Linked DNA regions of Homo sapiens: all the other regions are linked to region 1. The links come from fine-mapping of genetic effects on gene expression. A gene starts in region 1. Each other region holds a variant in brackets. All regions are shown on one strand. Distances are between the middles of the regions.

The links. PIP is the estimated chance that this variant, and not a neighbour inherited with it, causes the effect.
Region 2: its variant is fine-mapped to the expression of ARHGAP1 in whole blood (TOPMed, PIP 0.93).
Region 3: its variant is fine-mapped to the expression of ARHGAP1 in whole blood (INTERVAL, PIP 0.92).

Annotation. Positions count from the first base shown.
Region 1 is chr11:46,698,308-46,703,529 of GRCh38, forward strand. ARHGAP1 (Rho GTPase activating protein 1) reads right to left here and starts at 2,312. Exons shown (of 13, transcript NM_004308.5): 1 at 2,244-2,312. ZNF408 (zinc finger protein 408) reads left to right here and starts at 2,724. Exons shown (of 5, transcript NM_024741.3): 1 at 2,724-2,792; 2 at 3,092-3,369; 3 at 4,397-4,458; 4 at 4,677-4,936. The coding sequence starts at 2,741. RefSeq lists a silencer at 2,068-2,187 and an enhancer at 2,518-2,807.
Region 2 is chr11:46,668,641-46,673,862 of GRCh38, forward strand. It overlaps ATG13 (autophagy related 13), which reads left to right. Exons shown (of 19, transcript NM_001346311.2): 17 at 154-270; 18 at 764-892; 19 at 3,615-5,222. The coding sequence ends at 3,692. Among named protein-coding and RNA genes, the nearest start is that of ARHGAP1, 29 kb to the right of the region's middle. The variant C/T (reference allele first, on the strand shown) is at 2,499.
Region 3 is chr11:47,040,390-47,045,611 of GRCh38, forward strand. All of the region lies in intron 2 of CSTPP1 (centriolar satellite-associated tubulin polyglutamylase complex regulator 1), which reads left to right. It also overlaps the pseudogene LOC112268075. Among named protein-coding and RNA genes, the nearest start is that of CSTPP1, 110 kb to the left of the region's middle. The variant G/A (reference allele first, on the strand shown) is at 3,132.

The DNA of each region.
Region 1 (5,222 bases):
AGGAGCAGCCGGGGCCGGGCACGGTGGCTCATGCCTGTAATCCTAGCACTTTGGGAGCCCAAGGTGGGTGGGTCACCAGAGGTCAGGAGTTCAAGACCAGCCTTGCCAACATGGTGAAACCCCATCTCTACTAAAAGTACAAAAAAAAAAAATAGCCAGGCATGGTGGTGGGTGCCTGTAATCCCAGCTACTCAGGTGGCTGAGGCAGGAGAATCACTTGAACCCAGGGGGTGGAGGTTGCAGTGAGCTGAGATCAAGCTACTTCACTCCAGCCTGGGCAAAAGAGCAAAACTCTGTTTCAAAAAAAAAAAAAAAAGGAGCAGCTGGGAGCTGGGGTGGATGTGAAGGAGGGAGAAGGACACCATCTAAAAGGGAGCTGAACTTGAACTTCACCTCTTTTCCAGTGACTGCTCTTCTATGCTGTCAGTTCTTCCAGACATGACCTCCCTCAACGCCCCCACATAACCTCCTTTCCCAGCATAACTAAGCCCAGTGGTTCCCATCTCCCAGTCAGACTGGCCCCTCCCACTACCCCCAACCCACAGTTTAACTTCTGAGCCTGGAAGTTAAACTCCCATTCAGTGGGAGGGTGAGGAAGCTAGCACAGGGAAATTCTAACATCAAGTAGTAGAAATGAAGTATCCTGCCTGTTTAAGACACCAGCCACCCACAAGCCTGCTCTACTCTGTGCAAAATACACCCAACTCTGAGATTAATTTTTCCATTCTCAGCAGGTAAACCTTTACAAAAATCTTAAGGATCACCTTAGGCAATCACTTTTAGGAAGTTGTAGACTTTTCTGAAATTGGTAACATGTGTGGACTTTTTCCCTAAGAAAACTTAGGAGATGTATGCAATTTTAAGAGGTTCATACACCTTCTGAGAATCACTGTTTAAGAACTTCTGGTCTATTCAGAATGACACCTGATATATAGTAGATGCTATCATTTGTTGAATGAATGAACCAATTAATTCATCTCCTAAGTAAAGAAGGGAACCCACACTTGTTGAGGGCCTATATAGGACCATGAACTGGGGACACAAACTCAACCTCACGATAGCACTGATGAGGCATGTTCTACTAAGCTCATTTTACAGTGAGGAAAGAGAGGACCAGCCGGGCACGGTGGTTCACGGCTGTAATCCCAGCACTTTGGGAGGCCGAGGCGGGCGGATCACAAGGTCAGGATTTGGAGACCAACCTGGCCAAGATGGTGAAACCCCATCTCTACTAAAAATACAAAAATTAGCCGGGTGTGGTGGCGCGCGCCTGTACTCCCAGCTACCTGGGAGGCTGAGGCAGAAGAATCGCTTGAACCCGGGAGGCGGAGGTTGCAGTGAGCCGAGATCACGCCACTGCACTCCAGCCTGGGCGACAGAGTGAGACTCCGTCTAAAAAAAAAAAAAGAAAAGAAATCATATTCTCAACGTTGGAATCGGCCTCCCAGTTGCAAATCCCACCACAATACAACAGCAATTACAACTCTCAACTACAATTATGTTTGCATAGAGCTTCACGGTTTACAAAGCCCAGGTTACGTTTTGCAATTATCCTGTTTCACAGATTAAGAAGTTGAACTGAGGCCGGGCGCAGTGGCTCACGTCTATAATCCCAGCACTTTGGGAGGCGGGGGCGGGAGGATCACGAGGTCAGGAGTTCGAGACCAGCCTGGCCAACATGGTGAAACCCTGTCTCTACTAAAAATACAAAAATTAGCCGGGCGTGGTGGCGGACGCCTGTAATCCCAGCTACTCAGGAGGCTGAGGCAGGAGAATCGCTTGAATCCGGGAGGCGGAGGTTGCAGTGAACCGAGACTCCAGCCTGGGCAATAAGAGTGAAACTCCGTCTTAAAAAAATAAATAAGTTGAACTGAAAGCGTGGCCTAATAAGTGGCAAGGAGGAACACTTCCCCCAAATTTCTTCTTCTTAGTGCTTTGCCAGATCAGATCTGGGAGATTTCCCCCTCCCGCCGGCTTGCTGGATGACAGCGATCCGGCCTGGACTCTGCCCTGGGGAAGGCAGGAAGAAGGTAGTGAAAATGATTAAGTCCTCTTATTGCAGGCGCCAAAATGGGGCAGAAACCCTGCAGGAAGGCCAGGCCTCTGAGCCCAGTTCCACCCCCGTTCCCCTCCTCGGATCTGCTCCGGTCCTCCCCATCCGGACCCCATCCCTTCGGACGACCTGGCCAGCTCCTTTCCTTTCCCCATCCCCACCCGGGGAGACCCCGCGCCCAGCAGCTCACCGCGCTCGGGCACTGCTCCCTCTGCCACGCCTGTCAAGGCTCGGCAAACATCCGGCTCCGCGGTGGAACGGGAACCGCCCCCTCCCGCTCTCTTCTATCCCCAACCATTTCCGCCACACCTCCAACCCACTTCCGGCCCCAAACATGGCCTTTCCAGGAGCCCCGCCCACTTCCTGCACATGCCCGCCTAAGTTCCTGCCTCGGGGAGGTAACAGCATAACTGTCCGACTCGTCGCTCCCAAAGAGATGGCTGGAACAATTAGTTCCGCTTTCCCAGCTAGTCGAATCACTGGTGCACCTCCGGAATCCGAGGTTCGCATTGCTCTCGGACAGAGTTCTGCCTCCCCAGTACTCCCAAACTCCCAGTCCTGTGCACCAATGAGGTCCAGCTCTGAGGCTTCTTTCCTGAGAAAAAAATTTGGAAGTCCGTGACTGTTTCCTGGAGGAGCTGAGAAGAGGAAGCTCACTTCCGGCGTAGGGAGGCTTTCTGACCCGGAATGGAGGAGGCGGAGGAGCTGCTCTTGGAGGGGAAGAAGGCGCTGCAACTCGGTGAGTGACCTGCGATGTCCGCGACCCTCAACCTTGGCCCAGGTGGATCTGACGCTCTGTGGTCAGCTTTCTCCTCAGTCTTCTCTCCTCCGGATCCCAGGATCCTCCAGTGCCCTCAGAGTCGCTGGGGGCTTCTGAAGAGCCCTTGAGCCTCCTCAAAACTTTCAGGGCCCTCCTTAGAGCCCTCACCTGTCCCTCGGGCTCCGCAGGCCCACCTGGACCTGCGGTTTCCTCCCACACTTTTCCCCACCTCCCACCTTCTTGGGTGGCTCCCTCACTGTCTTCCCTTCTCTCTGCAGCCCGCGAGCCGCGCCTGGGCCTGGACTTAGGATGGAACCCTTCCGGAGAAGGCTGTACGCAGGGCCTCAAAGACGTCCCACCCGAGCCGACCCGAGACATCCTCGCTTTAAAGAGCCTTCCCCGGGGCTTGGCCCTTGGCCCCTCACTCGCCAAGGAACAGCGCTTGGGGGTCTGGTGTGTCGGGGACCCCCTGCAGCCCGGCCTGCTGTGGGGGCCGCTGGAAGAGGAGTCTGCCTCCAAGGAGAAGGGCGAGGGAGTAAAGCCACGGCAGGAGGAGGTATTGAAGGATAGAGCGACTTCCCTCCGCCCTTGAAAATGTAGGGGAGGTTTGGACATTGCTAGACAGCTTTTCAATTTGAAGAAAGAGAGTATTTCAAGAGATAGGAGATAGTCTTGTCCCTTCTCTTCAGGACTGTCTCCTCTCAGCAGCAGTAGTTAAAGAATCGAGGTTTGAAAAGTTGTTGAAAGCTGGAATCATACAGTGTCAGCAGTGAGTGAGGAAGGTCAAGAGCTAAGGTTTTTGGAATTAAGAAAGCATGGGATCAAATTCCAGCTTTGTCACCTAGCTGGTTAAATTACGTGCCGCATTTAATTCATCTGTGAAACAAAGCAGTGGCTCTCTTGGGATTATATGGAGGAGCTGATGAAATAGTGAAGATAAAAGGTTTCACTGCACAATAAGTACCATTTTATTTTATTTATTTTTCTTTTTTCTTAGACAGTCTTGCTTTGTCGCCCAGGCTGGAGTGCAGTGGCACGATCTCGCCTTATTGCAACCTCCACTTCCCAGGTTCAAGTGATTCTCATGCCTCAGCCTCCCGAGTAGCTGGGATTACAGATGTGCACCACCACACCCAGCTAATTTTTGTATTTTTAGTAGAGACAGGGTTTCACCATGTTGGTGAGGCTGGTCTCAAACTCCTGGCCTCAAGTAATCCGCCTGCCTGGGCCTCCCAAAGTGCTGAGATTACAGGTGTGAGCCCCCGCGCCTGGCCCAATAAATACCATTTTAAAAAGCTGGTGTTCCTTATTACTTTTTCTGTTTAGTACTCACTGGAAGACAGTAATGTGTTCAATTTAGTAATTCTCCATACCCTTGGGAGGGAGGTGAGGAGACAGACTTTTTGGTCCTTACTGAATGAAGAATCAGACAGCACTGTCCTGTTAGAGGAGAACCAGAGGCTTCTAACCTTCCAGGAGTTTCATCTTAAATTTGTCCCAGGAAAGTTTCATCTAGTTTCTTTTTTTATTCCTACCCGACCCCTCGAACACATTTGAGAAGGACTTTTGTTGGTTTATTTCAGAACCTGTCATTAGGCCCATGGGGAGACGTGTGTGCCTGTGAGCAGAGTTCTGGCTGGACTAGGTAAGTCAGAGGAGAGTGTGTCGTTCCTTTGAGGTTTTCTGTTGTGGTTTGGGATGGAACCCGGTGCTGACTGTCATTTCCTATTCAGTGCTCTTTTGCAGTGAATGTTCCAAAGGCACGGCGTCCTTTAGGACCCAGACTGCTTGGGGACTGGGGCTTTCGGGGAAGACCACTTGAATAGTGAGCATCTCCTAGCTGGCTGTTACTTTGCTTTGCAGCTTGGTACAACGGGGCAGGCTGGAGAGTGAGGGAAATGTGGCCCCAGTGCGGATCAGCGAGAGGCTTCATCTGCAAGTGTACCAGCTGGTGCTGCCAGGCTCTGAACTGCTGCTGTGGCCCCAGCCTTCCTCTGAGGGCCCAAGTCTCACCCAGCCTGGGCTGGACAAAGAGGCAGCTGTAGCAGTGGTGACAGAAGTGGAGTCTGCTGTACAGCAGGAAGTGGCCTCCCCTGGGGAGGATGCAGCAGAACCTTGCATAGGTATGTGTCAAATAAATGCTGGTTTCCCAGCAATTTCCCCACCAAAACAACCTGTTGATAAGACAAAGCAGAGTTTATGGCTCATTGCGGTAAGGAAGGACACTATAGAGTCTTAGTAGCTTTTCAAAATCTGTTTTAAGGTGGATCTTTCAACATGGGATAGGAGGGTGGGGCTTGATTAGTATTGGGTAAGGATTATGACTGAATAGCTTAGGGTTGGTACATACAGCAAGGCTAGAATTTTCAGGCAAGGGACAGTCTCAGACTATGAATTGTCATTCATTGC
Region 2 (5,222 bases), 30 kb before region 1:
AGAGTCACTAATCCCCCACAGACTATAAACCATGGCCCCTCGGCTTACGGGTTTGTAGCCAGCATTAAGTTCTTCCCAGAATTTTCAGATTGTTTACAGTAACTTGAATCTGGGTCACAGCATCAGCCCTAATCCTGCCTTGCTATGAAACAGGTGAATCCTCCAGATTCCCCAGAGACTGAATCTCCTCTCCAGGGCAGCCTGCACTCAGATGGCTCCAGCGGGGGCAGCAGTGGCAATACCCATGATGACTTTGTTATGATAGACTTTGTAAGTCGCCGTCACCTTCCTTGACCTTTGCTGTCCCGGGGAACTAGACCTAGAAGCATCTACTGCACTTGATCCAGATTTCCTTCATAGGGATCAGATGTGCTGGTGTAGACAGAAGGGATGGACAGGTGGAGTCTGGTCTGGGGAGACATTTTGGAGGCCGATAAACAACAAGGCATTTTTTGTCATGCCTTTGGTTAAAATTCATAATGAAATTCAACTCTAAATGGAGATTTTCCACTGATACCCACTTAGGTCCTATTCGTGGCTAGGCAAGGAGTTTGAAGGAGTGGGACATAAACTTAACTAGTGGAGAGGAATATTATCACCAGCATTAGAAGTGAACAGTCTGGGAGAGAAAAGTGTAAAGATTTCTCTCCCTAAGATAAGCCTGAAAGAACCTTTTGATAATTGCTAGAAGGAAAGACTTGTTCATAGCTTATCTCCTCTGTGGTTCAAGGCAAGCTAAACTGACTCTGTCTTGTTTTTGAAGAAACCAGCTTTTTCTAAAGATGACATTCTTCCGATGGACCTGGGGACCTTCTATCGGGAGTTTCAGAACCCACCTCAGCTGAGCAGCCTCTCCATAGATATTGGAGCACAGTCCATGGCTGAAGACTTGGTATGGAAACGTCTTCCTCTACCACAGTGCATCCTTATTTGATGGTCATTCCTTTGCCAAAGGCCTAGGAGGCCTACCACCTTCTATCTTCCCTGTAATAGGAAAGAGACATAATTAGAAAATTATCTTTTGATCACTCTTGAGATTGGCATTGTGCCCAGCAGTCATTATCTGGAATTTGCTTGAGCTTGGTTCCTTCTTTCTCTGCACATTCTCAGCATTACTTACATGCTCCTGTTGTTCTGTGCCTGACGTCTTCTCCTTGCAGATGCCACTAGGCCAAGTTGCTCTAACAGCCATTGCATTAGCTATTTAGCTTTCCAGGCAGATGCCAGTGGTACTGGGCAGAGGAGATTGTGAGGTCCTGAGTATCTGTGTTCTTGCTCTTTCCTCAGAGAGCTCACTCCGTCATCTAGCAGTTCTCACACTTGACCAGATGTCCTGATACTGATTATAATGACCCCATCTCTGCTTAGGGCATTTCCTCTTCCTGCCTCTGAGGGGCAGAAGAGTGCCCCGCACAAGCCACAAACTGGGTGCCCCATGCCAGGAGATGTCCCTCTTTGAGGTGGAATGATCACCTCCTAAATAGATATTAAGATCCTATGGTAGCTGCCCTGGATTTGCTTTAAGGAGAAAAGCATGCCCAGTAATAACAATACAGTAATAGCCAGGTGCAGTGGCTCACGCCTGTAATCCCAGCACTTTGGGAGGCCAAGGCAGGCAGATCACAAGGTCAGGAGTTCGAGACCAGCCTGGCCAACATGGTGAAACCCCGTCTCTACTAAAAATACAAAAATTAGCCAGGCATGGTGGCGGGCACCTGTAATCCCAGCCACTCGGGAGGCAGAGGCAGGAGAATCACTTGAACTTGGGAGGTGGGGGTTGCAGTGAGCCAAGATTGGATCACTGCACTCCAACCCGGGTGACAGAGTGAGACTCCATCTCAAAAAAAAAAAAAAAAAGTAATAATTACTACTACCAAGACCTTTTGGGCCAGGCACAGTGGCTCACACCTGTAATCTCAGCACTTTGGGAGGCTGAGGAGGCCTTCACTTGAACTCAGGAGTTTAAGACCAGCCTGAGCAACATGGTGAAACCCTGTCTCTACAAAAAGTACAAAAAATTAGCTGGGCGTGGTGGCATCCGTCTGTAGTTCCAGCTGCCTTGGGAGGTGGAGGCAGGAGGATTGCTTGCTTGAGCTGGGGAAGTCAATGCTGGAGTGAGCCATGTTTGCGCCACTGCCTCTAGCCTAGGTGACAGAGTGAGACCCTGTCTCAAAAACAAATAAATAAATAAATAAAAATCAAGGCTTTTTGAGTGCCAGGCATTTTTCTAAGTGTTTTACATGAATCTTCAACAGCCCTAAGAGGTAAGTTTTCTCATCCCAGTTTACAGATGAGAAAACCAACAATGATTAGCTTGCTCATAGTCACACAGACCCAGGCAAAACAAAGCTTTGCTTGATCTTAGAGGATCTGGTTCCTCAATTTAGCCTTTTAACCACTAAACTCCCTTGCCTATCATGACATGCACTTGGAAGAAAGTGTGGCTCCAATTCTCTCAACTGATGCCACAGCCGTAGCCAGTTCTGAGGCCTCCCTCT[C/T]CTTTCAGGAAGCTGCACCCAAACCACCCTCAGCTGTTGGTGTCTCCAGGCCACATTAAAAACTCTGAGGCAAGAGACTCTCCACGCTCCCTTGTGGTCGTGTTTAAACCCCTACTGGCAGGAAATTGTGATGGTGAAACTCTGCAGATGCAGCTTCTGTTCATTTAGTCATCAGTAGAGACGCATTTTTATTAATAGTTGATACTCTAGGACAGTTAAACTTCTCACAGTTCTGTTTTCCTCTGCTTCTGTCTTTACCATTCTCTCTCAATCTCTAACTCACCCCTTCCTCAGCTGGTATAAAGATAACAGATTCTGGCCGGGTGCAGTGGCTCATGCCTGTAATCCCAGCACTTTGGGAGGCCGAGGCGGGTGGATCACAACATCAGGAGTTCAAGACCAGCCTGGGCAACATGGTGAAACCCTGTCTCTACTAAAAATACAAAAAATTAGCTGGGCTTGGTGACGGGCGCCTCAGGAGGCTACTCAAGCTACTCAGGAGGCTGAGGCAGAGAATTGCTTGAACTCGGGAGGCGGAGGTTGCAGTGAGCTGAGATCACACCACAGCACTCCAGCCTGGGTGACAGAGCGAGACTCTGTCTCAAGAAAAAAATTTAAAAATACAGATTCCTAGGCCTTACCACAGACCTGCTACTGTGTCAGAATGTCAGTAGTATAGTGGGGCCACCTGGTTCACATTCCCCCCAGGGGGTCCCGATGCCCAGCAAAGGGTGTGAAGAAATCTTTTGTAAACTGTTTAATTTGTAGAGCTGTACACTTGGTATTTTATTCTAGTGTCAGTCAGATCTGTGCCAGGGATATTTCATGTTTAATTTCTGAATCATCTTGCTCTTGTGGTCCTTTTCTCTTTTGTTAAGTGTGTGGCCCACTTGGACTCCCAAGGCCGTTCCATTAATCCTCCAGCCCCTGCAAAGCCCTGATGCATATACCCCTCCCTACCCTGTGCCTACGCAGCTGCCCTGCGTTCTCCCACTTGCTCGGCCCAGCTAGGGCTGAGCTTCGTCTTGCTTGCTGCCTCCCCTCTTCGGGACTGGGCTGGCTGCCTCCTCAAGGCCCTGCCTGAATAAACGGCTCTTCCCTCTCTTTCCGGTACAGGACTCATTACCAGAGAAGCTGGCTGTGCATGAGAAGAATGTCCGCGAGTTTGATGCCTTTGTGGAAACCCTGCAGTAAAAGTATCCTTGAGTCCCAGCAGCACCCCCTTTTTGTGGCCCCAGGGCATAAGCAGCCTCCCATGCATCAGCTGCTCCCACCCCTCATCCTGCTCTGAGCCAGGTGGAAGGGAGGCTGGCTTCTCCCATGGGGACCCAGAAGTCCCTACTCTTGGACCTCCTGGAGACTCCGTGGCGGCAGTCAAGCCCAGTGCCCAGTTGGAGAAGACTCACGTGCTGGCCTTGGAGATGGGAAGAACCTTCGTACGAAAAAGCCCTCAGCAGGGCCATCTGTGTGCCCTGCCCATCACCAACTGCTTCCCAAGGGTGTCATCCTGTTCCTCCTGCTGCCGGCCTCCTGCCTGGGCCTGCCTTGCAGCTGGCCCCTTCCCTGCCTGCTGTCACCATCCACTGTTTGACATTCCAGCTGGTGGCCAAGAGATTGGTGTGGAGTCGCAGAAAGAGGAAGGAGACAGTGCCAGGAGGAAGAAGGAAGGAGTCCCTTAGCTCTCTTCATTGTCCCCTTTACTTCCTGCTATCTTCTTCTCCTCTTCTTCTCTCTCTTGCCTCTATGCCTGTATTTCTGGCAATATGACAGGCCTGCCTACCCAAGATCAGAACTCCAAAACCACTCCCACCCCTGAAGGTCGGGAGGGTCTGAGCAGCCCTGGTGGCTGCCTGTGCTCAGGTCCTCAGCTCCATGGGAAATAAAAATGGCACCCTGAATCTCTAGGATTTTGTCACTTGGAGTCACAGCAAAGTTCTCTTCCTCTTGTCCCCCCGTTGCTGCTCCTTGGTTATAGAACATGGTAAATATTTATTACTTTCAGAGAAACCAGATATTTTATAGAGGAAATATGTTTGAGGTGAGTTGTTTTTCACTTGGAGAAGGCGGAGGGCTCTTCCTGGGACGGAGACCTCCTCCTCCGGAGGTTATTGAGAATCCGGGCTGCTGCTTTGAGGATCTTCCCACCATACAGACAGCGAGATCCAAGAAGAGGGCTGGCCGGGGGCAAAGTCACCTCCCAGTGTGGCTGCACTGGAACTGACTAAAGGCTTTACCTTGGATAGTTGCGTATTCCTGGTGAGAGCCTTACATCTCCCACAGTTTCTGCAGAGTGACTGACTCCATTCTGGCAGCCCAGGAAGTCCTGGGTGCTAAATGTGATGGCCACATGTAGTGGTTAGGGGATGTTGTGTGTGTCCCCCAACTGCCTGGGTACTTGTTCCTGATCCCTGGGGCTGTCCTGTGGAGCTTTTCCTCCTGCTTGGGCCTAGCTACCATCTCCCTCTAATCCCAGGTTCTCTACACTGCCCTGGGGTTTACCAGCTGGATTGGCTTCTGGTTGAGAAATCAAAGCTGGGCGTATGATTGACTTAACCCTTCAGGTATTGTTACTTGAATAAGTCAAGTGCCTAGCCTCACCCACCTATGATCTGTCCTTTCCCAGCCTCGCTGGTAGTCCTGGTCAAGGAGATCTAGGTCTACTCCATTCCTCCTGGCCCACCTGGGGCATTCACTGGCAGCAGCTGTGCTTCAGTGGAGCAGGTG
Region 3 (5,222 bases), 340 kb after region 1:
ACTAGAGCACTTCTACACCCACCAGGAGAATAGACTCCCTCCCTGCTTCCTGTTGTGCTGGACCCCTATTGACTTCAGTAGGGATGGCACCATGTTTGCGAGGCTGAAAAAGAGACATGGAGCCAGCAAATGAAACATAAGGTTTTTTGAGGGGATTTACATACAGGGCAGTCCAGGGGCAGCATGCTGAACAGGAGAACTGCTACCACTTATAAAAAAGCATGCAGTTTATACAGCATTTTCACTTAGCCCCTCGACCCCGGCAATCTCCACCTGGCAACCTTCATCCAACCCAAAACAAAGGGCCTCGAACCCCTGTATGGCCTGTGATCCATGGGATGGATCAGATGGTTCAGATGTTCCTCATAGATAAAGAATGAATCTCTGGGTTGGCCATTCCCAAATTCCTTCACTCAGAACTCTGAACACACATTCATCTTAGACCACAGGGTCATTCTCAGGGTATGCTTCAATTATTTATGACAGGTGCATCTACCATACACCTGCTCCCCAAGTGGCTCCCTTGTACTATGGCAGCGGTGGTGGGGAGGGATTTGTGTAAACTCTGCCCTGGAGGGTGGGGAAGGTGAAGGTTGGATGTAAAATGGCAGCAGCTGGGGCTGGCAGTGGTGCTGCTGGGTGCTACAGGGCTTGTAGGGTTCCATAAAGAGGGCTGAGAAGGTGTTGACTTTGTCTGCCCCCTGCACCTCATGGGGAAACAGTGGCAGTTTCACAGTGCAAAAGTCTTTATAAGTGTTCTCCGTCTGGTTCAGATACTTGGCCTGGATCTTGTGTCAGGCCTCACATATCTTTCAGGATTTTCAGGGTTGGGGAAGAGAAGCTGGGTGATGATGATGTTGTATGTGTCAATCTTGTACTTGGCCAGCTCCTGGATCAGTCACTCTGTCTCATACAGGGATAGAACTCAGGGATATATTCGCAGATGATACAGGTAATCTACTCAGGGCCCTTGAACTGTTTGCTGACAAAGTAGATGATGGACAGTGTCTACTTCAGCATGGAGGACAGCACGTCTGTGTTCATGTCCCCAAGACCTAGAACGTTGCATGTCTGTAAGATAAAGGGGCTGATCTGGTTCTTGATCTGCTGAGTGTCATGTCAACCACCACCACTGAGAAGTTCATGCCCTTCACCAGCCTCATGACCTCAGCATAGCTCATGGCCTCATTGATGCCGGGAAAGGCGCTCATGGCTTCCTGCATCAACTTCTTGCTCATGCTCAGCATGTTTTCCTTCTCAAAGAACTCACTGGGCAGCTATGCTGCACCCTGGCTGGGGTCAATTTCCACAGTGAAGAGGTTGTCAGAGCCTTTGACCTTGGTAGGCACCTTTGAGAACTTCTGGTCAAAACCATCTGAGATGTTGTGGGCTAGGTCTGTGGAGATGATCAGAATACTTTCATGCCCTTTTGATAGCTGGATGGCCAGGCTGCAACTGCAAGTGGTCTTTCCCATGCCACCTTTGCGCCAGCAAGGATCCACTTAACTTAAGGCTGCATTTCTCAATGATGTTGCTAAACCTAGGCTCCAGTGGCTCTTGGAGGCTGACTTTGGGAGACTGAGGTGGAAGGATCACTTGAAGCCAGGAGTTTGAGATCGGCCTGGAAGTGAGACCCCATCTCTACAAAAAAAAATTTTTTTAAATAGACAAGCATGATTGTGTGTGCTTGTAGTCCCAGCTACTCAGGAGGCTGAGGTGGGAGGATCACTTGAGCTCAGGAGTTCAAGGCTACAGTGAGCTATGATTGCATCACTGCATTCCAGCCTGGGCAACAGAGCAAGTCCCTGTCCAAAAAAATAAAAAATAAAATAAAGAAAGAGAGGAAGGAAGGAAGGATGGATGGATGGAAGAAAGATTTCATTATTTTTAGGGAATATTTTTAGGAATTCCTTATTTCCTAATTTTTATTTATCTTGCTCAGCACTTTGACTTCTGTTTTTTTTTTTTTTTTGAAATACTGTAGGAGTAAACAAGCGTCACGTCTATAACTTACTCTTAAATAGTTCCAAAAAATGATAATATGTATATACATATGTACTTATATGTCTGTGTGTGTGTGTGAGAGAGAGAGAGAGAAAAGAGAGTGAGTGAGAGTAAATGTAGCAAAATATTCACATTTGAGTAATCCAGGTAAAGGATATTCAGGAATTCTTTGTGCTATTATAACTTTTTGGTAAATTTGAAATTACAATATGTCAAAATTTTTAAAAATTAAAATCTTCAAGGAAAAACTTCAACAACTTAAAGAATAAAAAAAATTGCTCAATGAAATTTGAATACTCGTTTTGGCAAAATCTGTTTATGGCAGACATATGGTGTACTTCTGTATGGCCTTTAAGATATTTTTAGGAACTTTTTTGTTTTACTTTAGAGGAAAGATTAATGTCTATTAAAGAACTTTGTAGTTTAGTCAAATACAATGAAAAATTAGTGCAAATATGCATTTTTAAGCTTGGTAGGTCAAATGTTTGTTTTGGATTTCTGGTCATGATGGCTTGCAGTGTTCATGACTTGGGCCTCTTATTCATTTCATACACATGGTAATGATACATAAAATTTTCTAAGATTTTTAAGGACATAGCCATGTATAAAATTAATATAAATTCATCTGACTAGGAACTCACTAAACCACAATGCAGTAAGTGGGACTGTAACCACATGCCTCCTGTGCTCTGGATTCAGAAGGCGTAGGTAACTGAAAGCTCATTTCTTGAATGGTGGAGACTCAAAATGTTATACACACAGTGCAGGAGACTGGAGCTAGCCCCTTTTGCCTCCACCACTTTAAGAAAGACTCAAAAAAAGTTATGACTGCTACCTGAGAAATGGCTTACATAAAACCTGGAGGTTTAGCCAGGTGCGGTGGTGCACACCTGTAGCCCCAGCTGTTTGGAAAGCTGAGGCAGGAGAATCCCTTGAGCCAGGAGTTTGAGACCAGCCTGGGCAACATAGTGAGACCCCGTCTATTAAAAAAACAAAAACCTTGAGGTGTGGGAGGAAGCAGACAGCCTTACAGCCAGGTCTTAGTGGTCCAACCTCCTTAGGGGTACAGTGACAATCTGTATGATATCCCTAATATCAGGAATGGAGCCATAAGCCATCCAATACAA[G/A]ACCTGGTTCTGGACTAGGGTCTGTCCACAAGAGAGAGTAGAAACCTCCCACTTCACATGAACTTATACGCTGAAATTCTAAAATACATGAGGAACACTGATGTTGAGAAAGATAGTCAATAAACCCAATAAACATAAATTTACTCCAGAGAAAACAAAAATAGTTGAACATTTAAAACTGACTTTGAGGCCAGGTTGAGGTGGCTCACACCTGTAATCCTGGCATTTTCAGAGGCCAAAGTGGGTGGATCACTTGAGCCCAGGAGTTTGAGACCAGCCTGGGCAACATGGCGAAACCCTGTCTCTACAATCCTGTCTCTAGATATAAAAAGGCATGGTGGCATGCGCCTGTAGATTCAGCTACTTGGGAGGCACTTATTATCTTTAAATTATTCATTCTCTATTCTGTCTGGTCAGCCTGAATAATGCAGGTTCTACAATGTATCTACCATGTAGGTTTATTTTTATTTATTTATTTATTTTTGAGATGGAGTCTCGCTCTGTCACCCAGGCTGGAGTGTAGTGGCGTGATCTCGGCTCACTGCAACCTCTGCCTCCCAGGTTCAACCAATTCTCCTGCCTCAGCCTCCCAAGTAGCTGGGATTACAGGCATGCACCATCACGCCTGGCTAATTTTTTTGTGTTTTTAGTAGAGACAGGGTTTCACCATATTGGCCAGGCTGGTCACAAATTCCTGACCTTGTGACCCACCCGCCTCGACCTCCCAAAATGCTGGGATTACAGGTGTGAGCCACCGCTCCTGGACAGTTTATTTTTATTTATCTTACTCAGCACTTTGACTTCTGTTTTGTTTTTTGTTGTTGTTGTTAGTTCTGGAAAATTCTCAGCCAATATATATACATGTGTATTTCTTGAGATAGGATCTCACATTATTGCCCAGGCTGGAGCGCAGTCACGTGAATCTTGCAGAATTGTAGAATCTGCATTACTTAGGCTGAACAGACAGAATAGAGAATGAATAATTTAAAAGATAATAACATAAAGAGATAAAAAACTATGAAGACAGGTAAGAGGCATTAAAAAGCTACAATGTATATCTAATAGGAAACAGAAGAAAATGATATAGGGAATGGCAAAGAAGCAATATTTTAAAAAGAATTGGGGGGTGCAGTGACTCACATCTATAATTCTAGTACTTTGGGAGGCTGAGGCAGGAGGATTGCTTGAGGACCAGCCTGAGCAACATAGCGAGCTCCCATCTCTACAAAAAAATTAAGTTTAGCCAGGCATGGTTGTGTGCACCTGTAGTCCCAGCTACTCAGGAAGCTGAGGTGGGAGGATCACTTGAACCCAGGAGTTCAAGCTTCTAGTGAGCTATGGTCATGCTACTGCACTCCAGCCTGGGCAACAAAGTGAGATCCTGTCTCAAAAAATGTATATGTGGGCTGAGAATTTTCCTGAACTGACAAAAAACAGAAGTCAGTTTAAAGTACTGAGCAAGATAAATAAAAATAAACCTACATGGTAGATACATTGTAGAATCTGCATTAATGATAAAGAAAATTGTTTATATGAATTATAAGAATGATTAACTCCAAAGGAATGGCAGGAGTTTGACAGCAGTTTGCTTGATATCAGTGATAGGTGCGAGGTGACAACTGGGTGGTATCTTTAAAGTGCTGAGAGAAGATAAGTAACAACCAGAATTCTCCACTGAATTAAATTTCACTCCAGAAGGTAAAATAAAGATATTTTGAGGTAGATGAAAACTGAGAGCATTTACCACTCACAGGCTTTTGCTGAAAGAACTACAGGTTTATGTATATTAATAAATTTCACAATTCAAAAAAAGCTTTGAAAACCTGAAGTTGTCCTTTGGTAAGTTTTCAGCAACCTCATTTGTGGGGCAAACTTGACCTAAACTAGTTCATGGGCTAATTTTGGTCTTTGTTTATCCCACTTAGTGTGAATACTTATATGTTTCACTGTGGAGACTTTAATATGTTTGAATCCATGGGGTGCTATCCCAACCCTGCTGAAGGTGTTATATCACATCTGGTTTGTGCAACCTTTATAAAATCTCAAAATTTGTCACTTCCAAACCAGAAAGGTCCCAGGATTTCAGATAAG